Homo sapiens: one gene and its partner. The protein of the gene in region 2 interacts with the protein of the main gene of each other region in a pairwise test. Each region holds a gene or a part of one and is shown on either strand. Other genes may lie near its edges.

Evidence for each region.
Region 1: the proteins of ROR1 (region 2) and DUSP19 interact in a two-hybrid assay, tested with the Homo sapiens proteins (one study listed by BioGRID and IntAct).

What each region holds. Positions count from the first base shown.
Region 1 is NC_000002.12:183,088,594-183,092,346, reverse strand, and holds part of DUSP19 (dual specificity protein phosphatase 19), read right to left. Parts: intron 1-3,753.
Region 2 is NC_000001.11:63,777,014-63,780,766, reverse strand, and holds part of ROR1 (inactive tyrosine-protein kinase transmembrane receptor ROR1 isoform 1 precursor), read right to left. Parts: intron 1-3,753. UniProt on the Homo sapiens protein: Has very low kinase activity in vitro and is unlikely to function as a tyrosine kinase in vivo. Receptor for ligand WNT5A which activate downstream NFkB signaling pathway and may result in the inhibition of WNT3A-mediated signaling.

The DNA.
Region 1 (3,753 bases), on a different chromosome or scaffold from region 2:
CTTAATACCTAGGTCATGGGTTGATAAGTGCAGCAAATCCCCATGGCACACGTTTACCAATGTAACAAACCTGCACATCCTGTACATGTGCCCCAGAACTTAAAAAAACCTTGGGTATAATGTGATAGTCTGCAAGTGCTTGACAGCCACCTATGATGAAATAAGAATTTTGCAGTGGAATGAAAATCAATTGTCACTAAAAATATACTCCTTAGTTCAGCGTTTGGGTGGGGTGGGGGAGTAGCCAAAATCTCTCAAAGAACTAAGCAATGTCTTGGTTTATATTCAGGCACAACCTTCTTATCCTGCAGAGGTCTGGTAGCAAACTGGACAACACTTTGAGGAGCACAGGTCAGAACAGTCCACTCATGACTATCCACAGTAGTAGAGGGGAATGTAAATATGACAAATACAAAAAAGTGATGGGTAGACTGCTTTGAAACAAAATGGAAGAAGTAAAGCAAGAGAATAGGGTCTGGTGGCAGGGAACCTAAGGCTGTTTTACTCCGATTTCCCAGAACTAAATTCAAAGGAAAACCCTAACTTTCCACACCTAAGTAACAAAAGCACCGGGGGCTACTGCCTTTGCAAACCCCTCACCTTTTCTGCATGCAGATGGGAAATTTGCTGTCCACAACCAATCAGACTAATTGCAGGCCAAGTCTTCGTTTGCATAGAAGTATAACTTTGTAACTTCACCCTAGCCTCTCACTGGTTGCTTTTTGCAACCAATCAGATGTTTGCACAGGAGCGTGACCTTTGTAACTTCACTTCAGCCTCTGGTTGGCTGCTTTCTCCAACCAATCAGACTGACTGCAGGATACCACTTCATTTACATAAGGTGAGCATGAAGTGGCCATTGGGAAACTTCTAGTGGGTATTTGGACCCAAGAAGATTCTGTATCCTGTCCCTTGGGCCGCTGCTTGGACCTGCTCCGACACTGTGGAGTGTGCTTTCACTTTCAATAAATCCCTGCTTTTGCTCTTTTGTTGCTTCATTCTTTCTTTGCTTTGATGGGCGTTTTGTCCAATTATTTGTTCAAAATGCCAAGAACCTGGACAACTTGCAGTCATGACCCTCTACTTGTAACAGAAGCATCTAAAAACTTCGTGAATTTAGGTACTTATTTAGACCCATAATGTCTCTCTAATGAACTTTTACTTCTATTGAACAAAAAACTACAAACAGCTTACATGTCTCATAGCAGGAAATAAGATAAATTATAGAATCACCAACTACCAGAATACTGTGCAAAAATTTTAAATGATTTGAATCATCAAGTATAAAAAGCAGGCTATACAGAGGGGACTAGGGCCAGAGACAGGACCAGGAAGGAACTGAGGACCAAGAAGTGCAAATATCAGTACCCAGGACCAAAGTGGCCGCCCAGAGTTCCCGATCTCACATGTGATAGCACCCCGTCAGCCCTCCCCTCCTGAGCAGGGATCCAAGAATGTGCCAAGAGGCCTGCTGGCCTCAGCCGGGTGGGCCTGTACATAGGGTCCATGTGCAATAGGGAGGGAAGTCTTCTATTTTTTGCTGCCCCCTCCCAGCCCGCTGTCTGGGACAGGGGGAGAAGGTATTTTCAAGATAAAGCACAGGTACCACAAATAAAGTCATGAAGTTGCCCTCCCAAAAAAAAGGCAGGCTATAAAAGAATATAAACTGTATGATACTATTTTTATAAAAATACATATATAGGTCTAGAAAAATATATCAAAATGCTAACAATGCTTATATCTAAGTGTGGAAGTGTCTTAATTTTCATCTGCATTTTCCATTTTTTCTACAAAGAACATGGACTACTTACGTCATGTTTTTAAAATCACATCTTATAAACAATGAACATGAAATATCAAATACACATTGTTATACTTTGTACCTTTTGTACATAAAAAGAGGGGACAAATAAATTTAGTTCCTAAAAGGACTCTTTGGGCTATAGAAGTTACCATTACTGTTCTTCTCAGGTGTATTTCTGTCCCTTTAGGCATAAAGGAAGGACAGAGAAGCCAAATAGAGTTTTGCAAGTACAGAGGGAAATGAGTAAAGACTTAGGAAATGGAATCCATTCCATTTGGCAACGGTATGCAAAAAGATGAAAACAACAAACTATAGCCTAGAAAGGTAGTTTTGAAACATGTAATTCACTGAGTAATTAGATTTAACAATACTTGAATATAAAATAGACAAAGGCATGAAGAGATCTTTTCTTAAAAAAAATGAAAAAAATTCAAGAATTTTTATTGCTAAAACTAAATATATATTAGCCTTCCAGGCATGGTGGCTCATGCCTATAATCCCAGCACTTTGGGAGGCTGAGGCAGGTGGATCACTTGACGTCAGGCATTTGAGACCATCCTGGCCAACATGGCAAAACCCCGTCTCTATTAAAAATACAAAAATTAGCCAGGCATGGTGGTGCGCACCTGTAATCCCAGCTACTAGGAAGGCTGAAGCAGGAGAATCACTTGAGTGCAGGAGGTGGAGTTGCAGTGAGCTGAGATTGTGTCATGGCACTGAGTTTTCAGGGCAGGGAAATATTGGCTGAGGTTAGGATTCCAGTATAAAACACAAGGCTTGAGAGGGTAGAACATATTTCTGAAATCTAATTCATCTTATCAGAAACATTTTCTGCAGCTCCTCAGATTCCTGTGGTGCCGCCATCTCACAGACCCTCTCAGCATGCTCCACCTCGGCTACCACCTCCATGGCTGACTGCTCTCCCCTGCTTTCACTTTTGCCTGTCAAAGAAGGAGCTCTTCTTCCATGGTGTCCACAGTATAGACAGGCGTACTCTGAGTTCTGGATTTTCTAATTCTCAACTTGGTTGAAAAGTTGTATTACTGGGTGTTAGATTTGGCTTCGAGGTGGCTGCTGAAAGAGTGGAATGTTATAACCTAGAATTGTGGGGTTGGTTATATCCCCACTGGCAAACTTTGACCAATGGGAAACAGGAGCTGACAGGAAGCCAGGCAGATAAATCCTCCCTTCCAGGCTGGGTTGAGGTGCAGTTTCTTTGTACTGCCTGTCCAGAGGTATTTTGGGTGGTAGAGTAGCTGTACCTGCTGAATAGCCAACAGTCAGCTCACTGTGAAATGAGCCCAGCAGGGTAAACGCATCACTTTGTATTGCTTCTCGTCCCACCTTGAATCACTTTCCTTTCTTGCCACTCTCACTGCCTAGAGATTGTACCTCTCAAATTAAGCATAAGCTCTAAATCCTCATCTCAGGCTTTATTTTTAGGAAACCCAAGCTAAAATCCACTCTAATTTACTGGCCCAAATTAAGGCAAACTTTATTTTTTAAATTTATTTAAAATTCCAAGCTTATTAGAATATTCAATCTCTTGCTTTTCTTTCTAGATATGATTAACCTCTCTAATTTTTACTTGCAACATTTACATCTCTTCTAATGTTAATATGAATATGGATGATATCTATACTTTGCCATCTCTGGCATATTCTACATCTCCTTAGAGAAGGAGCCAATACAGAAACATCCTTTTTATTTTTAAAACTATTAACTCACACACTGGAATGTTACAATCCAGAGCCTGTAAATTTTTTAACAAGAAAACAGAATGGCCAATATTAGGCTTTGAATTAAAAAACCTCTCCCTTGGCCAGGTGCAGTGGCTCATGCCTGTAATCCTAGCACTTTGGGAGGCTGAGGCAGGTGGTCTGCCTGAGCTCAGGAGTTCAAGACCAGCCTGGGCAACACGGTGAAACCCTGTCTCTACTAAAATACAA
Region 2 (3,753 bases):
GTTTTAAGGCATTGCAAAACTGCACTGTGGAATCCCTTCCATCCAGGTCCCCAGCACTGGCCTGGGTACTGCTCAGATCTAGAGCATCTGCATGCTCCCTATAAAACAAAACACTCTGGAGTCCTAAAACCTTGTAAAACTTGCTATTCTCTGAGCCTTGGTTGCTACCTTGCAGCAGGACCATCGTTTTGAAGCCAGATTTTCAAATTTCTTCAGTAAGCCCTTGATAATGATGGTGGCTAACATACTTCACGTTCACTAAGTCCATGGTGCTGTGTTAGGCGCTATAAGTTCATAACATCCTTTTATTCTCACAAAACCCCCCAGTAAGCCACATATTATTGTTATTCCCATTTTACAGATAAGAAAACAGAGGCTCAAAAGTTTAGGTAACTTTGCCCAAGAAGGCAACAAAGCCCCAATTCAAACCCCCATTCCCTATCAGGCTCAAATCCCATTCTATTTCCATTACTCCACGCCACCTCTTTAAGCAGCTATCAAAGGAAGTCCATCCTGTATAGAAATACTTGAAAAAAATAAAGTTTGGACTGTTGATCTTTTTTTTAGTCCCCCTCTCTCTCTTAAAAAAAAAAAAATCTATGGTTCTATGGAGAGAAGCAGGAAAAGGAAATGTAAGGAGGCCAAACATTATGAGGCTTGGCTTATCAGTATTTCATAACAGCTTTTGGATCAAGACTGTACAAAACCTTATTTATGGACAGACAGTTACTGTTAAGCAGAGCCTTTTTATACAACCTTTTCATCTGAGGATGTTGTAGCCTTCTGCTGCCTTTCTATTAGTGAGAGATGAGGTGTGAAATTTGCTGGCCCTGCCAAGATTATCCCATTAAATTATCTGCCCTCTTCCAATGTAATTCACTCAGGGGCAACTGTTTGAGACTCAGGTCCTATGGATGTCCATGCCTGGGTGTTCTGGGGGGTGTGGCTGGGGGCAGGGGATGAAGGAAAAAGTTCAGATGGTGGTAGCATCCCAATCACATAACATTAATCCACGTTTCACTGCCTTACCAAAATAAAGTGGATGCCACAATTATCCCATTCCTAAACAAACTGAAAACCCCAACTGAGCTTACTGCAACAAAGAGAGAGCCTTTTTACTGCTGTTTATTTTTATTTTGTATTCGTTAGCTTTTTAGATATTCCTGGCATGCAAGTCAGTCTCCGTGTAACAAGCAGCTGCATTTAGTTAAGGATTTTCGAAGAGTTGCCCCCATCCCCTCCCCCTTCAACTCCAGAGAACTTTCTCAGACTCTCCTTTCTCTTCCAGTTTCTACCGAACAGTCTCTCCCGTCACACCCCAGGGAATGGGTGAAGCCAGGCTAAGGCCCTTCTGTTTGAGAAAGAGGCCTTGAAGACGTGAGTGTTTCTCAGCTGGAGCTGGATTTGCCAGGGTCTGGTCCTCACTGGGACCTTGAGCTGGCAAGCCAGCTGTCCCACTAGACAGCACTCTAATAAATCCCCGCCTTCTCAGCCTACAACCACAGTTGTCCACCAAGATGCAAATACAAAGTCACTTCATCAAAATATAGCTTATTGATAGTTGGAAAAAACTGGCGAGCACACTTCTCAAACCACATCAAAGTTGAAGCTCATTACAAAAATGTAATTCTTCCAGAACCAGAGATCCAGGCCATCCAACAAGGTGCTTCCAGTCTATCTCTGAGTTTCAGCAAGACCGTCTTAGGGAACTCCAGCACTCGAAGGGAAATTGAAATTGGCTGTCTCCAATAATTTCTTATAACCTCTAGATTACAGCTAAGCAAGCTTCCCTTTGCTGCTGTTGGAAAACCTTGGGAAATACCACCTTTGTTCCATACATTAAAAGAATATAAATTGTAAGAATTAAACAAGGAAAGAATGTCTAGGACAGCCACTAAGGTAAGAGCATGAACTGTTAGGGCTTGTAAGCCCAGTAATGCCACTTTTTAGCAGTGTAACCTAAAGAAAGTAACTTAACCTCTCTGTGCCTAAGTTTACCCATCAGTAAAATGAGCTAATTATGCTATCTCCCTTATAGGGTTGTTGTGAGGATTCAGTGAGTTAATACTTGCAAAAGGCTTAGAAGAGTGATTGGCCCATTGTAAGGATTAGATAAGTGTTTGTTAAATAAACTGTACAAATTGCATCTCAGAATGCTTGGATTCAGAGACATATTTTCTTACTTGAGGTCACAAGGACTTGGCACCATTCTTCAGCTTCTCTCAGGCCCAATTAACAGCCTGCCTGGTGGAAGGGAAACTGGGAGGTGAGAAGTGGGGCCTCCATGGAGTGTGTTAACCTGGGATAAGGCCTAGAACTAGCCACCAACACTCAACTCCTTTCAGCCTCCCCAGGAAGACAACCCATTGCCTCAGGCATCAAACACTCCAAGTCAGCAGTTCCTATCGTTCAGAGGTTGACACTTTTCTTGGAAAATAAGATTATAGCTATAGCTATAAATACAGAACCGTAAAAATGCATATAAAATTGTGTATATTATTTCTGGAAGTTCACATATCCTTAATTTCATGTACCCCAAATTAATTTCACGCACTCACCTCTTGGCTGGGTGCTGTTCTCCAGTACTTTACATGCATGACCTCACTTCAATCTCATAACACTCTTGAAAGGCTCAGGAAAACTGACACACCCACTATACAACAGAGAAAAGATTCAAATCCAGGTCTGTTAAATGCCAAAGCCTGTGCTTGTAACCATTTAGCTTTACTGTCAAGTTCTGCTACACTACACTTCTTTCATACTAGAAGATGGGACAAGAAAAGGAAAAATCCTTGAAAATATGCCATGTTGCATTTTTACTAAGCAAAGCATATATCAGAATTTTGCATACAACCGAAAAAGTTATTCTCCATTCATTCAACAAATATCTATGGACCACTTACTATATATGTGTGTATATACATATGCTATCTGTACATATACATTTACATCAAAGTACATATAGCTTACAAAGTGTTCCATTCTCCATAGGATGCTGTGTAAAATTTTCAGAAATATTTGAAATGGGGTAGATGTTCACCATCAAACCACCAGCCAAACCTGATACTAATTTCAGAGCAAGTGACACTTTCAGAAACTTTCCAAAAGTCTAACTGGGGGCCTATGCTCAAGATACAGAAGAGAAAGGGTGCTATAGGGCAAAGCTGACCCCTCACTAAATATCAGGCAGATTATCCCAGGCATCAGAGAAGCAAAACAGCCTACCATGTATACTGAATCTATATTGGAAATTAAATATTTCCAAAACTGAAGGAGACAATTTGACCACACCCTTTGCCCATCCCACCTTGGTTCGGCTCCCCCTAGCCAGCCAGGGAGGATTTTCAGGCATCTCTAATAAAGTTGGGACTAGTGGACTTGGGCTCTCAGTGTTTTCACCAGAAAAGCTCACAGTCTTATTGCCTTCAAGACACTTCTATTCTAAAAGTACAGACAAATACCTATTTAAATGGCAACGGAAGGTTTACAAAATGATAGCAAACACAGTAGCAAGCCACCTCCCTCTGGCTCCCAGCAGCCAAACCACAGAATCTATAAGATTTTGAGAAAGGCCAGGTAGGTTCCTAAAGCCCTGGGCTTGGGTGCAGTTATAAGGTAAGCTTCAGGTTCCTAAAGAAGTTGAGCTTTGCATAGGGAGGGGGTAGATGAGAAATCAACAATGGACAGACCAGAAAAAATAAATTTAAAGGTTTTCTTCTCCTGGCTAACAAAATAGAAAAATGATGGGAGAAA